Linked DNA regions of Homo sapiens: region 1 is linked to region 2. Evidence: fine-mapped expression QTL. A gene starts in region 2. The other region holds a variant in brackets. All regions are shown on one strand. Distances are between the middles of the regions. Region 1 overlaps KASH5 (KASH domain containing 5). Region 2 holds the start of PRMT1 (protein arginine methyltransferase 1).

Region 1 (9,990 bases), 280 kb before region 2:
CTGTTTTATTCACTCTGGTATTCCCAGTCCCTAGAGCAGCGCTGTCCTGTGGAAGTATAATATGAGCCACATAGGTAATTTATTATTTTTTAAAAGAAAAAAGGAACAGGTGAAATGAATGTTGATAATGGATTTTCCTTATATAGCCAGACTAATACCCTGTATATTATATATGTATACAGGATATACATACATAGAGATATATATATGTATATAGCCAATATATAGCCAATATAAAAAATGTATCCAGATAATCTGTTTTTTTCATACTAAGCCCTAAAGATCTAGCGTGTACTTTACACTAACAGAGCATTTCAGTCTACACTCGCCTCAGTTCAGGTGCTCCAGAAGGAGAGACTGCCCTGTTGGCTGGGACCCCAGAGCAACTCCTGACTCACTGTGGGAGCTCACTTACTGTTGAGTGAACGGACGGATGTAGGTTGAACGGGTGTGAAAGCTGGCTTCAGAGGGTGGGGAGGAGGCACTGGGGTTGCCTCTCTGAAACTCATCTGCCAAGTGAGAGAGCCCAGTCTGATGGGGATGGTAGGGCCCCTTTCTTAGAGGCTCCCAGGCATCCACGGCACAGCCTGCGTCTTTTTCTACAAAGCCCCAGACCTCAGGAGGCTTTCCAGATAGGAGGGTCAGAGGTAGACACCAGGGTGTGGGAACCAGAGGACAGGCTGTCTAGTGACAGCCATCTAAACTTCACCTGCACCAGCAGAGGGCGTGCAGCCACCAGGATCCGGGTGGCAAGGGCTGAGACAGCTTCGAGAGGCTCTGGAAGGAAAGGTAGGAACACACCCAGAAGGAGAGATGGAGACAGAGGAAGGCAAAGGGAAAAAGAAACAGCAGAGGAAGGAAAGAGAAGACTTAGGGAATGGAGAGTCTCTGAGATATGGGAAGGGAAGCACAGAGACTGAGATACAGGGAAGAAAACGGGGACAAGCGACATGGAGGCAGAGAGACAGGACGTGGGGAAGAGAGACTGGGAGAAAGATAGAGAGAAAGAGCCAAAGAGAAATGTAACGAAGAGGCAAGGACAGAGACATAGAGGAGATAGAGACACTGAGGAAGGAGATCTTCCTGAGGAACAGAAATGACATCTCCCTGGGGGAATCCTGGGATGCGACTTCAGACACATGCTGATCCTCAGAGCCAGCACGACCTGATGCCAGTCCTGAGTTCTATTCCCAGCTTAGCTCTCTCTGGCAAGCAGCCCTGGGTGAACCATCTCATTGGGCCTCAGGGTCCTCGTTCATGTAACATGAGAAAGACACTGAGAGGGCTGGGTATGGTGGCTCACACCTGTAATCCCAGCACTTTGCGAGGCCAAGGTGGGCGGATCACTTGAGGTCAGGAGTTCGAGACCAGCCTTGCCAACAGGGTGAAACCCCATCTCTACTAAAAATACAAAAATTAGCTGGGCCTGGTAGCAGGCACCTGTAATCCCAGCTACTCGGGAGGCTGACGCAGGAGAATTGCTTGAACCTTGGAGGCAGAAGTTGCAGTGAGCGGAGATCACGCTACTGCACTCCAGCCTGGGTGACACAGCGAGACTCCATCTCAAAAAAAAAAAAAACAGTGAGAGGAGGAAAACAGACTGGGGCTAAAGCCCTGGTCTCCCCCTAACTGTGAGTCCACACGCCCCTTCCCAAGGGCCAAACCTAGGAGCATAGGTTCAAGACAGAGGGGGTGCAAATTTCACTCACTGCAGAGAATCCTGGAAGAGTTAGAGGGATGAGAAAGTTGACTCATATGTTAAACAGGGTGACCTTTGGCGAGTTCTTAGTTTCTCTATGCCTTAGTCCCCTCATTTGTAAAGTAGGGATTATAATAGCATCGATTATTATTATGCTAGTAGACAGTTCATGTAAAGTGCTCAGAAAAGGCCTGGCACCTACTAAATGCTCAATAAGTGTTCAATTCTATTCTTGAGTCCCCACCACGTGCCAGGCCTTCTGCCAAAGCCTTTCTAGATTGTATCTCATTTTCTCTCTAGGAAAGAGGTAACACCAACCCCATTTTCCAGAGGAAGAAACTGAGGCCCAAGAGAAGTTGAGTCCATTGCCCCAGGTGCCACCACTTGTCTGAGGCCAAGCCTCGGTTGCCCCCTGGATCTACCCCGTCCTGCAGCCTGTGCTCAGTGAGCTGCTGCACCCAGCTGTTCAAGGCCAGGGCAGGGAGCCTAGAAGTTCACTTCCAGCCCTGGGAGAGAGGCTGGGCCAGCCCAGTGGCTCCTGCAGTTGAGGATCTCTTCCTATGTCATGGAGCATTTGTTGAGCACCTGCCATCTGCAGGTGTTGTGGCTACAACAGTAGACAAATAGACCCCAGGACGTGTGTGTGTGTGTGTGTGTGTGTGTGTGTGTGTGTGTACATGCGTGTGCTTCACATACACAGAGCTAACTCAGCCCTGGTGAGGAGGATCACTCTACCCACCCCCCCAGTAGGGAAACCGAGGCTCTAACAGAAGAGACTTGCCCACAGATGTGCAGCTGGACTCTGCACCCAGGTCTGACACACTGATCCAGCTCATAACCATTCCCTCACTGCCCACCCTGTCTGGTTTACCCTATCCCTTCATGTCTCAGCCCCTGGCCATGGGCTCCAATGATGCCACCCTTGCCTTAGGGATGCAGGGAGGAGAGAGACCTGGTCCCCAGGGTGGGCTGGGAGACCGGAGATGCAGCAGGCGGGATCGATCTGGGCTGCCCATGCATTATTGGATTGTTCCTGGCTCCTGGGCCCCCCCTTCACTCTCAGCTCCTCCCAGAATCCTCTCTTCTTTGCCCTCCCCGACCCTGTCCCTCTCTGAGTCCAGCCTGGGAGGCTGGAGAGGAGAGGAGGAAAGGGTGATCTCAGAGCGTTCTTCTCTGGGCTCCTAAGCCAATTGGACACAAAAAGACAGCAGGGGGGACTTCCTGGTTTGAAAGATGGGGGGAAGTAACTCAGAGACCCTCACATTGTTGCCCCCTCCTGAAGCTTCCTGCTGTTCCCCACCCGCCCGAACTCTCAGTGCTCTGAGTGAATTCCCTCCCCGCTACAGAGCCCAGGAGGCTGAGGACCTGGGGTCACCCCTCTTCCTTCCTTATTCTTCCCACTGGTGAGCTGAGCCCTCTTGTCTCCCCAGTGTACCTCCGGGAGCGGCCTGAGGAGGCAAGGCTGGGAATGCCGGTCAGCTTGGAGGAGCAAATACTCAACTCCACGTTCGAAGCTTGTGACCCTCAGAGGACAGGTGGTGGGGGCATGAGGGGTGCTGGGGACCAGTGCGGGCAGGATGGGGTGGAGGCTGGGAACTGGGGAGCCTCAGAGAGAAGACTGGGCTAAGGCCCCCTCTTGGGGGTATTGTAAGAACAAAGTGGGTGATTATGGGAAGCTTCAGGAAGAAGAACGTGGATAATGGGGTGAAGGCCTTTTAGAATGAGGAAAACTTGGGGGACGTTGATGGAAGAGGGCAGAGTTTTGGGGTCGTGGGATAGGGGAGGGAGGCAGCCACCATGGTGGCGTGGGGCATGGCTGATGCTGTCCCTATGTCCATCCCCTTTGGTTTACCCTGTGATGGGGGGATGACTGGGCCCCATTTCCAGGTGAAAAAGTGGACTCAGAGGAGGGGAAAGGGCTTGCCCAGTGTGTCTCCACTGGGCCATGGAGCAGGAGTGCCACCAGCCTAGCCAGTGACATCCTGGTCCCAAGCTGCTGCCAGTCCATACCCATCACTCCCCACCTGCCCCAGACCCCCTCACTGCATGCTCTGTCACAGGCACTGTGGCTGTGGCCCAGGTGCTGGCCTACCTGGAGGCT[G/A]TGACAGGCCAGGGCCCCCAGGATGCACGCCTCCAAACATTGGCCAACAGCCTGGACCCCAATGGGGAGGGCCCTAAGGCCACTGTGGACTTGGACACTTTCCTGGTTGTCATGCGTGACTGGATTGCTGCCTGTCAACTACATGGGTGAGTCCCCACATCTTCATCCTCCTCTGGGAAGTCCTTCCTAAGATCTAACCTCATACCTGCTTACTGGAGCCAGCATCCTTTAGGCCCAAGGACCTACTGTGTTTGGAATGAGGCTGTGGAGAGAAAAATGAAGAGACGGGATTCAGAGGGGGTAGATAGGGAGTCTGAGGACAAAATAATTTGGATGAGGAAGCAGAGGGGGTCTGGGAGACAGAAATAAAATGGGGCTGGAGAAGGGAGGAGTTTGGGGCTGACAGAGGTCCCTCCCCAACCCTTCACCAAACCCACTCCTTGCCCCTCCTGCTTTTCCATCTGGCCACGGGCACTTGCCATCTGGCCTCACCCTCCTACCCTGTGGTGCCAGCTCTCACCTGACCCGGTCCCCTCCTCCCACCTGCAATCCCCCTGCCTGTGGCTGGTGAGGACTGAGGGGCAGCTACAGTGGGGCGCTAAGCCTCATCCCTTTGATACAGGGGATTAGAGCTGGAAGAGGAGACCGCCTTCCAGGGAGCCCTGACCTCCCGGCAACTGCCATCTGGTGAGATTGCTATATATAGAATGAAGCAGGCAGGCCCTGGGTCAGACAGTGTGGGGACTTACCACCCAGGGCAGAGCAAGGGATAGGGTAGGAACCAGGGACCTTTACTGTAGACTAGAGCTGTGAGTGTGGCTTTCTAGGTCCTCCGTCCCTTCCTTCCGTGAGCTTTGGGTTTCTTTTCTTCAGAGGGTGGTTTCCAACTCGTTCTCCTCACACCAGCCCTATTAGAGAGGCCTACGAGGCCCCGCCTACCTCTGCTCCATCATTAACATCACCTCTCCTCACTCTAGTCCAGGAATTCACAGGCCCACTGGTCTTGCTGCCCTTCCTCGAATGTGCCCCACTTCTGCCCAGCACAGGTCCTTGCTCAGGCTGTTCCCCTCCACTCCTTGCTCCCCACCCTGCTGGACTTTTTTTTTTTTTTTTTTTTTTTTTTTGAGATAAGAGTTTCACTCCTGTTGCCCAGGCTGTTGTGCAATGGCGCAATCTCAGCTCACCGCCACCCCCGCCTCCTGGGTTCAAGCAGTTCTTCTGCCTCAGCCTTCCGCATAGCTGGGATTACAGGCATGCACCACCACGCCCAGCTAATTTTGTATTTTTCATAGAGACGAGGTTTCTCCATGTTGGTCAGGCTGGTCTCGAACTCCCGACCTCAGGTGATCCAACTGCCTTGGCCTCCCAAAGTGCTGGGATTACAGGCGTGAGCCACTGCGCCAAGCCGTCATCCACTCCTCTGGCAAAGGGGAAGCCCTGGTATGCCCCTGGCTAGAGTTCCTTGCTCCCCATGCTCACTCCTAGACTTGTAGGCCTTTCCATTGGAACATCCACCTGCAGAGGAAATCTGATTATCTAGTTAGCCACTGGCACCTGGGTTTAGTTGGCTGGTTTGCTCACCATTGTATCCCCAGGACCTCACACATAGGAGGTGCTCCATAAAAAAAGTGGTCATGATTACAGGCGTGAGCCTGTAATCCCAGCATTTTAGAAGGCCAAAGTGGAAAGAACATTTGAGCCCAGTAGTTTGAGACCAGCCTGGGCAACATAGTGAGACACCATCTCTACTAAAAATAAAAAATTAGCTGAGTGCGGTGGCATGTACCTGTGGTCCTAGCCGGGACACTGAGTCAGGAGGATCGCTTGAGCCTGAAAGGTCAAAGCTGCAGTGAGCCATGCATTGCACCACTGCACTCCAGCCTGGGCAATAGAGCAGGATCCTGTCTTTTAAAAAAAAAAAAAAAAAATGGTGGTCATGTTCCATTTCTCTAGCCATACAAAAAACGGTGGGGAAGGAAGTTCTCTTCAACCTCCTTCATCAGGCTTGGGGGCCCAGGGAGGGCTGCAAGCAGAGGAGGGACTAGAGGCCAGAAGGCCAGAGAAGAGGCTCTGGTGAGGATCCAAGAGGAGAAAGCAAGGGCCGGGGCATGGAGACAGAGAGGAGGGGTGGAGCAGAGAGTCAGGGGCAGGAGGGAGAAGTCTGGGCTCTGCTGGACTGGGGGTGACAGGGAGCAAGGGAGCCAGGTCCGCCCAGTGGCTGAGTGGTCGGTGGGGGATCTGGGAAGGGGAAGGTGAAGTGCTGCCCAGTGTTGGGTGTAAAGAATGTGGGGAGTTAGGGTTATCTGGGAGATCCAGCCTGAGCTCAAGGTAGAAGACAAGCAAGAGGGCTTTACAGTGGGTATAACTGCAGCCCCAAAAGCCCATGAGATTCTCCAGAGCACAGGTGAGGGTGGAGGCAGATGGAGTCCAACCTCAGAGCCCTGGGGCACTTTACGTTTAAGGGTTCCAGGGAAGCCAACATTCTCTTGGCTCTCTCCCTCCAGGATGCCCAGAAGCTGAGGAGCCAGCCAACCTGGAGAGCTTCGGAGGCGAAGACCCCAGACCCGAGCTGTACCTATCCTCACACCCCTCCCTGACCCTCCTGCCCACACCCTGTCCCCTCCAGCCTGCCGAGGCCCGGGTAGGGCTTGGGATCCTTCAGGGAAATGAATGAGGGACGGGGCTTTGCTGAAAGTTCAGGGAGAGCAGAGGAGTCTCTCTCCTGTTTATCTTTCCCCAAAAGAGCCACATCTCCCCACCACCAGCACCTACCTCGACCCGGGGAAATGAGTCAGGGGCTGTGGACAGTGACCTGAACCCCTTCCTTGCCCCTAGACAAGCCACAGCTGACCTGCTGAGCAGCCTGGAGGACCTGGAGCTCAGCAACCGACGTCTGGTTGGGGAGAATGCCAAATTGCAGCGGAGCATGGAGACAGCTGAGGAGGGGTCAGCACGCCTTGGGGAGGAGATCTTGGCTCTGCGTAAGCAGCTTCACAGGTGGGCTGGATGCCACACCCACCCTCCCCAGCGCCCCTGCCTCCGTCCTCCCTGCAGCAGCCGGCCTCTATCTCCCATGCTCGTGTCTGCATCCTGCTCTTTGACTCTGTACCTGTCCTTTCTTTTCCCTTTTCTGTTTTTATCTTTTGTGTCTCTCTGATTCTTATCTCTCAGCCTCTGTTTTGGTCTTTTTATCTTTCCCTTGAGGGTTCAGACTTCTCTCTCTCTCTTTTTTTTTTTTTTGAGACAGGTTCTCACTCTGTCACCCAGGCTGGAGTGCAGTGGGGGTGATCACAGCTCACTGTACCCTCCGCCTCTGGGCTCTAGCGAGCCTCCCACCTCAGCTTCCCAAGTAGCTGGGACCACAGGCCCACCACCCTGCTTGGCTAATTTTGTTTTATTTTTTATAGAAATGAGTTCTCACTGTGTTGCCCATGCTGGTCTCAAACTCCTGGGCTCAAGCCATCCTCCCGCCTTATCCTCCCAAAGTGCTGGGAGTACAGGCCTGAGCCACTGCACCCAGCCTAGATTTCTCTCTTTATTCTTTAACTCTCTGATTCTTCATGTCACTCGCCCTTTCATCTCTCTGTGCTTTGTCATTCTTCATGTTTATCGTGGTCTCCCTGTTCTAGTCCCCCACTCTCTCTAGGTCTCTTTCCCACTTCCTCAGTCTTTTAGGTTAAAACTGGGTCTCTGTGCCCACACCAGGTCTCCTTCTCCTCTTTTCTCTCTGGGTCTCTGTCCTCCCCTCTCTCTGGGTCTCTGTCCCTGCCTACCACCTGGGATCTCTCTGTTGCTAGTGTCTCTCAGAATGGATCTGTCTCTGTGCTTCTCTGCCTTCCTCCCTCTCGTATGGCTCATCTGCCCCCACCCGCATTCAGCACCCAGCAGGCCCTGCAGTTTGCCAAGGCCATGGATGAGGAGCTGGAGGACCTGAAGACTCTGGCCAGGAGCCTGGAGGAACAGAATCGCAGCCTTCTGGCCCAAGCCCGGCAGGCGGTGGGTCTGGCCCAGGGGAAGGAAGGTGCCCTCTCTCTTCTTTGTTTCCTGGAGTCAGGGCGGCAGAGTGTGACTATGGAGTAGGAAGGGGCAGAGGTCACCTGGCTTTCTCCCTCTCTCCAGGCCCTGCTCACCCTAGACTTTTTCAAGCTTACCTGCCATCCTTCTCATGACAAAGGAGACAGCAGGAGCCATCAGGGCTTCCCAGACCCATTCCCCCAGGCCCTGGTTGTGTTTTCAGGGGTGGGAGAAGGGCAACATGGGGGCAAGGAGGCTAGAAATGAAACCTTTGTCCTCTCTCTGGGGTTGGTCAGGAAAAGGAGCAGCAGCATCTGGTGGCTGAGATGGAGACTCTGCAGGAGGAGGTGAGCGGAGGCCCAGCACCACCCCCACCCCTTCCCCAGTCCTTAAGGTCTTCTTGACACCACTCCCTTCTGCCCCCAACACCCCAGCAGCCTGTCTTGGGGAGACCTCAGAATGTCAGTAGTGTGGGAATGTCCCTGAGGTTATATCACACTGTGAGAACAGCCGTGGTTTACAAGAGTGTGAGGCATGGGGTCAGCCTACATGGCTTCAGGCTGAGGCCACCTACATAAGAGTGGACCAGTGCCTCCCTTCTCTGTGCCTCAGTTGCCTCACCTATAAAGATGAACAAAACAATGGCATCTGCCTCAGTGGTTTGTGTGAGACTTCAACCGAAGGATACTTGCAAAGTCTTGGGCACAAGGTAGGACACATAGGATGTGCTCACTAAAAGTTATCTAGCATTGTTTCTATATTAGTATTTTTTACAGTGAATAAAACAGCCAGGCACAGTGGCTCATGCCTGGAATCCCAGCACTTCGGGAGGCCTAGCTGGGTGGACCCCTTTAGCCTAGGAGTTCGAGACCATCCCGGGCAACATGGCAAAACCTTGCCTCTACAAAAAATAGAAAAATAAGCCAGGCATGGTAGTGTGCACCTGTAGTCCAGCCACTCAGGAGGCTGAGGTGGAAAGACTGCACGAGCCCGGGAGACAGAGGTTGCAGTGAGCCAAGATTGCATCATGGCATTCCAGCCTGGATGACAGAGCGAGAGCCTCTCAAAAAAAAAAAAAAAAAAAAAATTGGATTTGAAGTCAACCTTGAGTTCAAATCCCATCTCCGCCACTTACACAATAGGCAACCTTTAAGCATGTGACTTCTCCTTCTCAAGCCTTTACTTTTAGTTTCTTTTTTTTTTTTTTCTTTTTTTTTTTTTTGAGACAGAGTTTCATTCTTGTTGCCCAGGCTGGAGTGGAATGGCGCGATCTTACCTCATGGCAACCACCGTCTCCCGGTTCAAGTGATTCTTCTGCCTCAGCCTCCCAAGTAGCTGGGATTACAGGCATGTGCCACCACACCTGGCTAATTTTGTTTTTTTGTTGGTTGGTTGGTTTGTTTGTTTTAGTAGAGACGGGGTTTTTCCATGTTGGTCAGGCTGGTCTCAAACTCCCGACCTCAGGTGATCTGCCCACCTCAGCCTCCCAAAATGCTGGGATTACAGACATGAGCCACCACACCTGACCTACTTTTATTTTCAAAGAACTGGAAGAAGGGTATCTGTTCAGTAGGCTTGTTTTGAGGATTGACAGCATTTCACTGAGGGACTAGCAAACAATATGAAGAGACTGAGTTCAGCTTCACATTTAATTCAAGCCCCGTTCCATCCAAGACAGAAAAACATCATCTTAGTTCATTCTGGGCCCACCTAATTTTTTTTAGATTGAAACAAACTCATCAATTGACAATGAAACCTGTCACCACCCCCGACCTCAAGGTGGTATCTAAGTTGCAGGAGACTGATGCAGGAGCCTAGTGCTCTAGGAGGCTGCTGATCCTCACTCAATGTTTCTCCTCTCTGCTGTTCATGAGATTGATGGGTTTTGTCCAAGCGTTTGTCACCACTGTGTGCTGGCATCTACTGTGAGGCCCGCATTGCCTTTGGATCTCTGGACATACCATCTTCTTCATCTTCTGGTGGTGATCCCTTATCTGGGCTGGGACTCTTACTCCACCACTTCCACACCCTTCCAGAGCCAGGGAGGTGATTTGGCTACTTTCCTGTGAAAGGGAAGAGGCTGGGGTCACTGCCCAAAGCCCCTGCCTCATTTCCCCAGGCCAGGGTGGGTGCTCATGGTGGGGAGATGTGGCTTCTCTGGGGAAAGAGAAACAGG
Region 2 (9,700 bases):
ACAGAGTGGGACCCTGTCTCAAAAAATAAAATAGTGAGAGTAGTAGTGCTACCTCAAAGGGTCGCTCTGAGGGTTAAAATGGGGTCAATGTGGTAAGCCCTCTGTGCACTGCCTGGCATGCAGGCATTTTGTTGGTGAGGTTATATGGCTACCTGCTGCCTTTCCAACAGTGCCTGCCAGGATGCCCTCCCGGGGAACCCCCTGCCTCCGTCCTGCTCCTTCTGGTGGGCTCTGGTTTCACCCCCAACGAGGCCTTCCCAGGTCCCCATTGACAATCACAGCCACCTGCACACCCTCCCACCGCCCTCCTTCCCCCTTCCTGCTTTACTTTTCCTTCCATAGCACTTTGGGCCTTCCAACAGATGGTGGAATTGACTTGTTTTACTTGTCTTCTGGTTTATTTTTCTTTGTTGGTGTCTCCCACCTCTAACACATCAGCTTCAGGAGACCCAGAAGTCTTCCCCTCTCCTTTTCTTACTTTATCTCCAGTGCCGGTTTCAGAGTTGGATTGGGCTCCAGCGTGCTGGCCCTGTGGCTTGGCGACTGTCGCAGTCTCCCTGAGCGGCACTCTCCCCACTGGTCCAGTGAGCACCGTCTCATTTACCTGCCTTGGGGGGTCGCTGTGGGTATTCACTGAGAGAGGGACACAAGCCAGGCTCTGGATGGAACCGGTTTCCCTGGCAGGAGCTGGTCAAGTGTGTTTGAGGAGCAGGGAGGAGGAGGCCAGTAGGGCTACAGTAGGGTGAGCGGGCGACAGATGAGAGGAGGAGAGGCGCCGGGCCAGCCAGGACCCTGTGGTCACGGTGAGTGACAACTCGGACTTTGACTCTGGGTAAGCCAAGGTCTCTGAGCAGCGGAGGGACAGGCGCTGATTTAGGCGCTAATGGGCGCCCTCTGGCGGCTGCCTGGGGACAGACTGCTGGGGGCGAGGGCAGAAGTAGGGGCACAGGGAGGAGGTGAGTGGATCTCACCCAAGTCGGGGGCGGTGGAGAATGCTGGATTTAACTTAGCGGTGAAGCTGACAGATTTGGCTAATGGGCCAGATGTGGGGACAGACTAAAGGATGCTGGCCCGAGCAGCTGCAGGGCGACATCTTAAGTTCCCCGAGATGGGGAAGGTGTGGGGATGGGGGCGATGGGGGTGGGGAGCAGGACTGGAGGTGGTCCGGTCTACAGTAAGATCAGAACTCATAGCACATGTTGAGGGGAATGGATATAAGTGTTGGGCTCAGCAAAGAAGCTCGTTTATTTTATTTTATTTTAATTTTTCAGATGGAGTCTCACTCTATTGCCCAGACTGGAGTGCAGTGGCACGACCTTGGCTCACTGCAACCTCCACCTCCTGGGTTCAAGCGATTCCCTGCCTCAGCCTCCTGAGTAGCTGGGGTTACAGGCGCACACCACCATGTCCGGCTAATTTTGTAGTTTTAGCAGAGACGGGGTTTTGCCCTGTTGGCCAGGCTGGTCTCGAACTCTTGGCCTCAAGTGATCCACCCACCTCGGCCTCCCAAAGTGCTGGAATTACAGGCTGAGCTACCACGCCTGGACAATTTCTTAAAAAATTTTTTTAAAGTAGGATTGATAGCAGATGAGTTTTCTCGGTGGGCCAGGTCCTCTGCTAGGGATTTCAATGGAATGATCCCATTTAAACCCACTACAACCTCATGGGGCTCTTATTGTCCTCGTCTTGTGGGGGCAGAGAGGAAAAGTCCCCAGCATGCAGAGTGTTGGAATCTGGATTTGTACACAAAGCCACGACTCTGAATTGTTCAAATCCCAAGACTCTCTTCCCCATCTCTGACTCTGTCCCCCAACTCTTCACTCTCTCTGGATCTCTGTCTAATCCCACTCCAGTGTCCTGACCCTCCTCGAGCTCAACCTTTCCTCCTCCTGCTAGGACCCTGCCCCCTCATCCCTGTGCCCTTCTGTCTGGGTCTCTGTCCCCTTGTCTGGGTGTCTGTCACCCTCCGCTCTCTGGTTCCTCGCCTTCCCGTCTCTAATCTCACAGGGCTGATGTGGACGCTGCTGTATGGGGGGAACACCTGCCCTGCTCACAGGGCTCTGCCACTTTTCCCTTCCAGGAGGGCATCCTGGCTGTTTCACCCGTGGACTTGAACTTGCCATTGGACTGAGCTCTTTCTCAGAAGCTGCTACAAGATGACACCTCATGTCCCTGCCCTCTTCGTGTGCTTTTCCAAGTCTTCCTATTCCACTCAGGGCTGTGGGGTGGTGGTTGCCCTACCTGTTTTTGCCAAAAATAAATTGTTTAAAACTTTTCTTATTAAAAACGTTACAAAGTATTCAATTGTCTGTTCTTACACTTGGGAACTAAAGTTTTAAGGAGAGGAGATTTGGTTCAGAGATTTCTGTGGCTTACGCAAATTGAGGAAAGAACCAGTTCATTCATTCTAGAAATATTTATTTGCAGCACCTACAAGAGCCTGTCTCCTGGACATGTAACATATTTGAGAGAATACCTGTAAATATTCCAGCAACTTGCATTTTTTTTTCCTATTGCACGATCTGGTTATTCTAGCTAATGCTGTATGATGGTCATGGAGTCTTTCCAGTGAATTCCACAGAAAGGTACAGTCTAACTTCACCTGTGTCTAGGACACCACCCTCTTCTTGTTTTTCTCCTCCCATTGCTCCTTTCAAGTCTCTCTTGCTGGTTTCTCATCTACCTACAGACCAGTGGTTTGTCTCACACACACCCCCCACTCTCCCTTTTTTTTTGGAGATAGGGTCTTGCTCTGTTGCCTATACTTGCACTGTTATATAGATACAGTGGCACTATCATGGCTCACTGCAGCCTCAACCTCCTGGGCTCAAGTGATCCTCCCACTTCAGCCTCTCTAGTAGCTGGAACTAAAGGCATGCGACACGACGCCTAGCTAATTTTTAAAAAAGAATTTTTATGGGAGGCCAAGGCAGGTGGATCACTTGAGGTCAGGAGTTCAAGACCAGCCAGGCCAACATGGTGAAACCCCATCTCTACTAAAAATACAAAAATTAGCCGGGCATGGTGGTGGGTGCCTGTAATCCCAGCTACTTGGGTGGCTGAGGCACGAGACTCGCTTGAACCCGGGAGGCAAGAGGTTGCAGTGAGTTGAGATCACGCCACTGCACTCCAGCCTGGGCAACAGAGCGAGACTCCGTCTCAAAAAAAAAAAAATTGTAGAAATGGGGTCTCCCTTATGTTGCCCAGGCTGGTCTCCACCTCCTGGGCTCAAGTGATCCTCCTACCTTGGCATCCCAAAGTCCTGGGATCACAGGCATGAGTCACTGTGCCTGGGCGGTTTGTCTCCTTTATAGGGCCATATCCCCCTTCACAGAGTAATGTTTGTAAATTAATAAGTGAAATGTACAGGATTACAAACCGAACCAATTACAGTTGATCCTCAGTATTTGTAGATTATTTGCAAATTTGCATCCTTGCTACAATGTATTCATACCCCAAAAATTAAGGCAGTGCTTTTGTGGTGTTTTGGAGGGCAATGCTTATGCACAGAGCTGCAACAAGCTAAAGACCTGATGTGCATATTTGCAGCTGGGCTCCTCTTGCTTCAGCTCAAACACTGGAAACAAATGTCCTTTTCTTGGTTTGTTTAGTGCCATGCTTTTCAATTTTTTTTTTTTTTTTTAAAGTTAGAGTCTCGGTCTGTCGCTCGAGCTGGAGTGCAATGGCTTCATCCTGGCTCACTGCAACCTCCACCTCCTGAGCTCAAGCGATTCTCCTGCCTCAGCCTCCCAAGTAGCTGGGATTACAGGCGTGTGCCACCAGTCCTGGCTAATTTTTTTATTTTTATTTTTATTTATTTTATTATTTTTTGAGATGGAGTCTCGCTGTGTCGCCTAGGCTGGAGTGCAGTGGCACCATCTCAGCTCACTGCAACCTCTGCCTCCCGGGTTCACGTGATTCTCCTGCCTCAGCCTCTGGAGCAGCTGGGACTACAGGCGCCCACCACCACACCCGGCTAATTTTTGTTTTTTTAGTAGAGACGGGGGTTTCACCATATTGGCTAGGCTGGTCTCGAACTCCTGAGCTTGTGATCCGCCCACCTCAGCCTTCCAAAATGCTGGGATTACAGGCGTGAGTCACCGCGCCCGGCCAAATTTTTTTTTTTTTTTTTTTTGAGACAAGAGTCTCGCTCTGTCACCCAGGCTGGAGTGCAGTGGCGCGATCTCAGCTCACTGCAAGCTCCGCCTCCCGGGTTCACGCCATCCTCCTGCCTAAGCCTCCACGCCCGGCTAATTTTTTGTATTTTTAGTAGAGACGGGGGTTTCACCATGTTAGCCAGGATGGTCTCGACCTCCTGACCTTGTGATCCGCCCGCCTCGGTCTCCCAAAATGCTGGGATTACAGGCGTGAGCCACCGCGCCCGGCCGCCTGGCGTAATTTTTGTATTTTTAATAGAAATGGGGGTTTCACCATGTTGCCCAGACTGGTCTCGAACTCCTGATGTCAAGTGATCCGCCTGCCTCCGCCTCCTAAAGTGCTGGAATTACACCCGTGAGCCATCGCGCCCGAACCCTATTGTAAATTTTAAGTCTCAGGCGTTTGCCAGCGGCACGCCAGAGAGTATAGCCTGCGCGGAGGCCCAGAAACCAAAGAGCGAGCTCATTCCGGGATTGGAGAGAAGTGTGAGCAGAGGGAAGTAGAGGGATCGGGGAGAGGAGGGGCAGGACCCACGCATTCGGCCCTTTGCATTCAGCTTCATTCAACTAGGAACTTTTTCTGCAAATCAAGGAAAGCTTCCCGGAGGAAGTGGTGCCTAAGCTGTGCTCTGATTCACGTTTAGAAGCTGACCAGACAAAGAGAGGTGGGCGTTCCTGGCAGGGGGAGGGACTTGGCAAAAACCAAGTGGCTTGAGAGGGGTTGATGGTTTTAAAAAACTTGGAATGATTATGTCAAGGGCTAGGGATTTAATGTGTTGACGACGGACTCCTATTCCTCACTTGCTTCGGGACCCCAGCTATGCCCTTCCTCTCTCTGGGCCTCTCACCGATTCCGTTTTTCCCCCAGGTAATGAGCACAAGCTCCCTTTTTCCTCCAGACTCCCCCCGGGTTGGGAGGATCCACCGAGTGGACGAGGAGTGATAATTCCTTTGAGCCAATCGTTGGTGCCTGAAGCCCCGCCTTCTTCCCTACCCGTGGGCCAATTGCCGTGTTCTCCTTGAGGCCGGCCGCTTGGCGAGGGTGGGCCAAAGGCTGCGTGACGTCGCTTCCGGATAAACCAATGGCAGCGATTAGGAGGCGGGTCGTTTTGGTGATGGACAGGTGTTTCAAGACGCCCCTTTAGCGCGGGGCTCCCCGGGAAGCTTTGAGGCGGTGCTGGGTGTAAAGGGGAGGGCATTCCTGGTGGATTTTGCCCAATCACCAGTCGCGCTTCTTGCAATAGACGGGCAGTTTTCCCCATCCCGGGTCGACTTGAGGGGGCGGGATTCTGGACGCCAGAGTTGGCAAACCCCTGACCTATGATGGACGTATTCTCTAGCCAATTACTAGACGGTATTCTCAGACGGGCCGCCTCCATTGCCAATGAAATCTTCCAGCGGGGTCGCGGTAGGCGGGCCGTGGACCCTCTGGTATAAGGCGGTCCCGGGGGAGTGAGGAGAAAGGGGGGGTCTTGGCGGCCGGAGGAGGAGTAGGTGCGGGTGAAGATGGCGGCAGCCGAGGCCGCGAACTGCATCATGGAGGTGAGCGCTTGGAGCGCCGCCGTGGGCGGGAGGCGGCTTTGGGTCGGTGTTTCACGCCTCTGTGGTGGGGAAAGGGCTCTAAGTTGGCGATATGGGGTTGGAGGTCCCCCGCCGCACACGGGGGCGCCGCACGTTCCACATCCGGGGATATCGTTTGAGGTGACGGCTCCCTAGCTTCCAAGGGCCTTCGGCATCCGGCCTAGCGGAGGGTCTTATCCCCCCTCCCACGTGGAGGAGGGCTGGGGGCGCTTCCGGCCAGGCCCCCACGTGGCCGCTGCGCGGTGGGTGGGGAGGGGGTGTGCCGAGTCCAGTGGCCCGGCGGGCTCCACGTGCGGGACAAAGGCCCCGCCCCCGGCCGGGGAGGGGCGCCCAGGGGGGCGGGGAGGGGGTCCGACCCTCCTGACGCCCCCAGCCCTCCTCCCCGGGGACCTGGGCACACGCCGTGGGGTGTGATCGACCTGGGGCCCTCCACGATGTGGGGAGTCTCTTGGGAGGAGCAGTGCTTCTCAGCCCTTTACCAACCTCCTTCCGAGCTCCGGGGGCATCTGTTGGGATATCGGACCCGGTTTTGTGCGTTCTGGGTTAGGGACTGGAGGAAAACCAAGAATGGGGTCCCCCGCCGACCCCGTTTCCCCTCCCAGAATTCTCCCCCTCGCCCAGGGCTTTAGGAGTTGGGGGATGGGGCATGCCCCTGTGACCTCCCTCTGGGTGGTGGTGGGGCATCTAGATAGAGATTTTCCCATTAATAGGCGCCGTGCACCCCCTTGTGGCCATTTCTGGGTGTGTGGGAGGGACATCTTTTTCATGGGGCGTGTCCTGAAGCCCACCTCCCCTCGGATTTCTTCCTGGCGGGCGGAGGGAGGAGGGTATGTCCGCTGGGAAGGAGTTGTGGGAAATATGTAGGCTGAGAGCTTTACCCTACTGGAGCCGTTTATCTCCCCCGGGTCTTTGTGAGGGTGCGAGATGACCTCCTTCTTCCTGAAGCCCTGTGCAGGGTCCTGAGCCCTGGGGTCCTGAGAGTGGGTGCCTGAAATGGTTTCGAGTGAGGTTTGGTTCTCGTGCAGCCATGTGGGGGAGGTTTCAGTCTTGCGTTTCAAGCCCTCTGGGGCTGGGGTTGTCTGGCGGTAGTTTTCAGTGGTATTGAGAAATAGGCCCGAGTGGGAAACCCCCTCAGCACCTTTCTTCTTATAGGCATCCCCGCTAGCTTGGGAGAGCTGGAGGGAGGGTGCTTGGAGCCTAGTAGGTCATGGCCTGTGACGTGGCCCTTCTTGGAGACTTGGATAGTGGTCACATCTGGAAGAGATGTAATCTGATGGGGCCTCTGTCCTTCCACCCCTTACCTATGGCATTGGCTGGAGGGGCAGGTCAGCTCTCAGCTGTCAGGATGCAGCTCCCAGGGGTCACTGTAATGACTTCCCACCCTCTTGGCTGTCTCCTGCACCTGGGGCTCTATGGATGGAGGAAATAACTTTCCCAGAGGTGGCCTCAGGCTTGGCCGCACCTGGAAGTCTTCAGGGCCTGGGATGGGTGTCTGAATGGGGGCGATGGCCTGACTCCCCAAGCCACTTTTTTTTTTTTTTTTTTTGAGACGGAGTCTTACTCTGTCACCCAGGCTGGAGTGCAATGGCTTGATCTCGGCTCATTGCAACCTCCGCCTCCCGGGTTCAAGCGATTCTCCTGCTTCAGCCTCCTGAGTAGCTGGGATTACAGGCACCCGCCACCAGGCCCAGCTAATTTTTGTATTTTTAGTAGAGATAGGGTTTCACCATGTTGGTCAGGCTGGTCTCAAACTCCTGACCTCAGGTGACCCACCTGCCTCGGCCTCCCAAAGTGCCGGGATTGCAGGTGTGAGCCACCGTGCCCCCAAGCCACTTTCTGGAGTCCTCTCATTCTTAGAGGGTCCAGGAGCTGCCCATCTTCCCTGGGACCCTACCTTCGTGGGCAGAGGGTCATAAGGGAGGGGGTTGGTTCCAGCTGGTTTTGTTTGGGGCTCCTGAGTCCAAGGCAGGAGCTGGGGTCTGGGGTACTAGCTCTGGGGAAGTACCCGTGTGCCACACCTCTATTCTGGAATCCTCTCAGACATGAGACTGGTTTGCAGAGGTGGCAGATGCCCTGTGGGCATATCCTGCCAGCCCCGCTCCCTTCTGCTATTCATGGCACCCTAGGATAGGGGTGTGTGTGTCAGGAAGTGTCACCTAATCTGGAGGAGATTAGGTGATGAGAGGGAGCGACAGCTGGCGGTGGTGGGTGCCAATTCCCCTGGCCTGGATGGGGGAGGTGTGTGGTCAGCTGCCTGGCCAGAGAGGGGCAGCGTGGGGGTGGGCCACCATCTCTCCAGCCACAGCTGGGATAGGAGACCCCCCTTTCTTCTCCCCTCACTTTTCCCACCCTTTCTTAAACACCCCACCTCATTACTTGCCCCCTTCGCCACCACTCCCCACCAAGAAGGAGAATTGCTGGAAACCCACCCCCCGGCCAGAGCCCAGGTTCCGCCACCCAGCCCTCCCACAGCCACTCCCAGTAGCTAATCCTTTTTCCCTGTTACTCTCTCCTAGAATTTTGTAGCCACCTTGGCTAATGGGATGAGCCTCCAGCCGCCTCTTGAAGAAGTAAATATCCTTTTGTGAGACCCCTCCCCACCCTGACCTCCACATCAATATATCTTGCCACACATCTGGCCCTTTCTTGAGGTCTAACCATACCCCTCTTGCTTCAAACCAGTTTACCCCAGGCCCCCAGACACTTAGTAGCAACCCCTCCAGGTTCACAGCCCCCGCTGGCCTCCCCCAGTATCGCCGCTACTTCCTTAACTCCACCTCCAACCCCCCTTTGCCCTTCCCTGTGTCTGCCCCCATTTTCCTTCCCCTCCCCTCCCCAGCTGTGGGCTGAGCTAGAGACGGGGTCAGAGAGACTGGAGAGATGGTAGGCGTGGCTGAGGTATCGGGGTGCTCCCCTGGATGGTGCTCTGGGGGGGTCCTGGAAGTGGAAAATGGGGTTGTTAGGTTTTGGGGTTCCTGGGGGGGCAAGATGGCAGGCGGGGGCTGTAGGGTTGTCATGGTATGATTTTGGGGGTTCTATACTACTCTTCAGGGAAAAGTAGGGCGCTGGAGGTTTAAGAGGCTGTGGGGAGCCCCCAGATCTGACCCATGATCCCATCGGCCCCCTCCCAGGTGTCCTGTGGCCAGGCGGAAAGCAGTGAGAAGCCCAACGCTGAGGACATGACATCCAAAGATTACTACTTTGACTCCTACGCACACTTTGGCATCCACGAGGTCAGTGGGGACAGTCCCCAAGGCCCCAATCTTAGGGGGGCTTAAATGTTGGGGAAGGGGTGGAACCTGTTTTCCCACGCATGCGCACTGCTTCCCCTGGCCGCAGGCCGCCCCCCTGCCCCTCTGCTGCGCACTTCCTAGGGTCGCCTCGCCAAGCCGTTGCCTTGGAGACCGAGGTTAGCCTGAATCTCTGCAGGGGCCTCGCGCCGAAGGCTGGGGTGGGAGAGCGCATGCGTGCCTGGGGCCTTAGCCAGAGGTCGGGCAGGGCCCACTGGTCTCTGCCGCCCTCTAGTGACCGGCGGTGGGACTGCGCCCCGGCTGCTCCCGCCCTAACAGCTTCTGCACACTTCAGATCTGACTGAAGACACTGAAATCCCAGAACGAAGCTGGGGTGGCATTCTAAGGAATTTTCTTTTCCCCCTGAGGCCTTTTTCATAAAATTGTGGCAAAATATGCATAAAATTGCCATTTTTTATTTTTAGAGACGGTCTCGCTCTGTCGCCCAGGCTAGAGTGCATTGGTGCAATCATGGCTCACTGCAGCCTCGACCTCCCCGGCTCAGGTGATCCCCCCACTTCCACTTTCGGAGTAGCTGGGACCACAGGCGCGCGCCACCACGCCCAGCTGATGTTCTTATTTTTCTGTAGAGATAATCTTGCCTTGTTGCCCAGGCTGGTCTCAAACTCTTGGGATCAAGTGATCCTCCGGCTTTGGCCTCCTGAGGTGCTG

Evidence for each region. PIP is the estimated chance that this variant, and not a neighbour inherited with it, causes the effect.
Region 1: its variant is fine-mapped to the expression of PRMT1 in whole blood (INTERVAL, PIP 0.92).

The regions. Positions count from the first base shown.
Region 1 is chr19:49,391,347-49,401,336 of GRCh38, forward strand. KASH5 (KASH domain containing 5) reads left to right here. Exons shown (of 20, transcript NM_144688.5): 3 at 3,130-3,234; 4 at 3,760-3,946; 5 at 4,423-4,487; 6 at 6,305-6,371; 7 at 6,636-6,797; 8 at 7,679-7,796; 9 at 8,111-8,161. Among named protein-coding and RNA genes, the nearest start is that of KASH5, 8.1 kb to the left of the region's middle. The variant G/A (reference allele first, on the strand shown) is at 3,801.
Region 2 is chr19:49,671,618-49,681,317 of GRCh38, forward strand. It overlaps PRMT1 (protein arginine methyltransferase 1), which reads left to right and starts at 5,654. Exons shown (of 11, transcript NM_001536.6): 1 at 5,654-5,699; 2 at 8,255-8,308; 3 at 8,870-8,971. The coding sequence starts at 5,664. It overlaps BCL2L12 (BCL2 like 12), which reads left to right. Exons shown (of 7, transcript NM_138639.2): 7 at 2,081-2,299. The coding sequence ends at 2,131. RefSeq lists enhancers at 487-1,045, 539-728, 5,139-5,288, 5,293-6,024 and silencers at 5,869-6,148, 8,929-9,298, 9,145-9,309.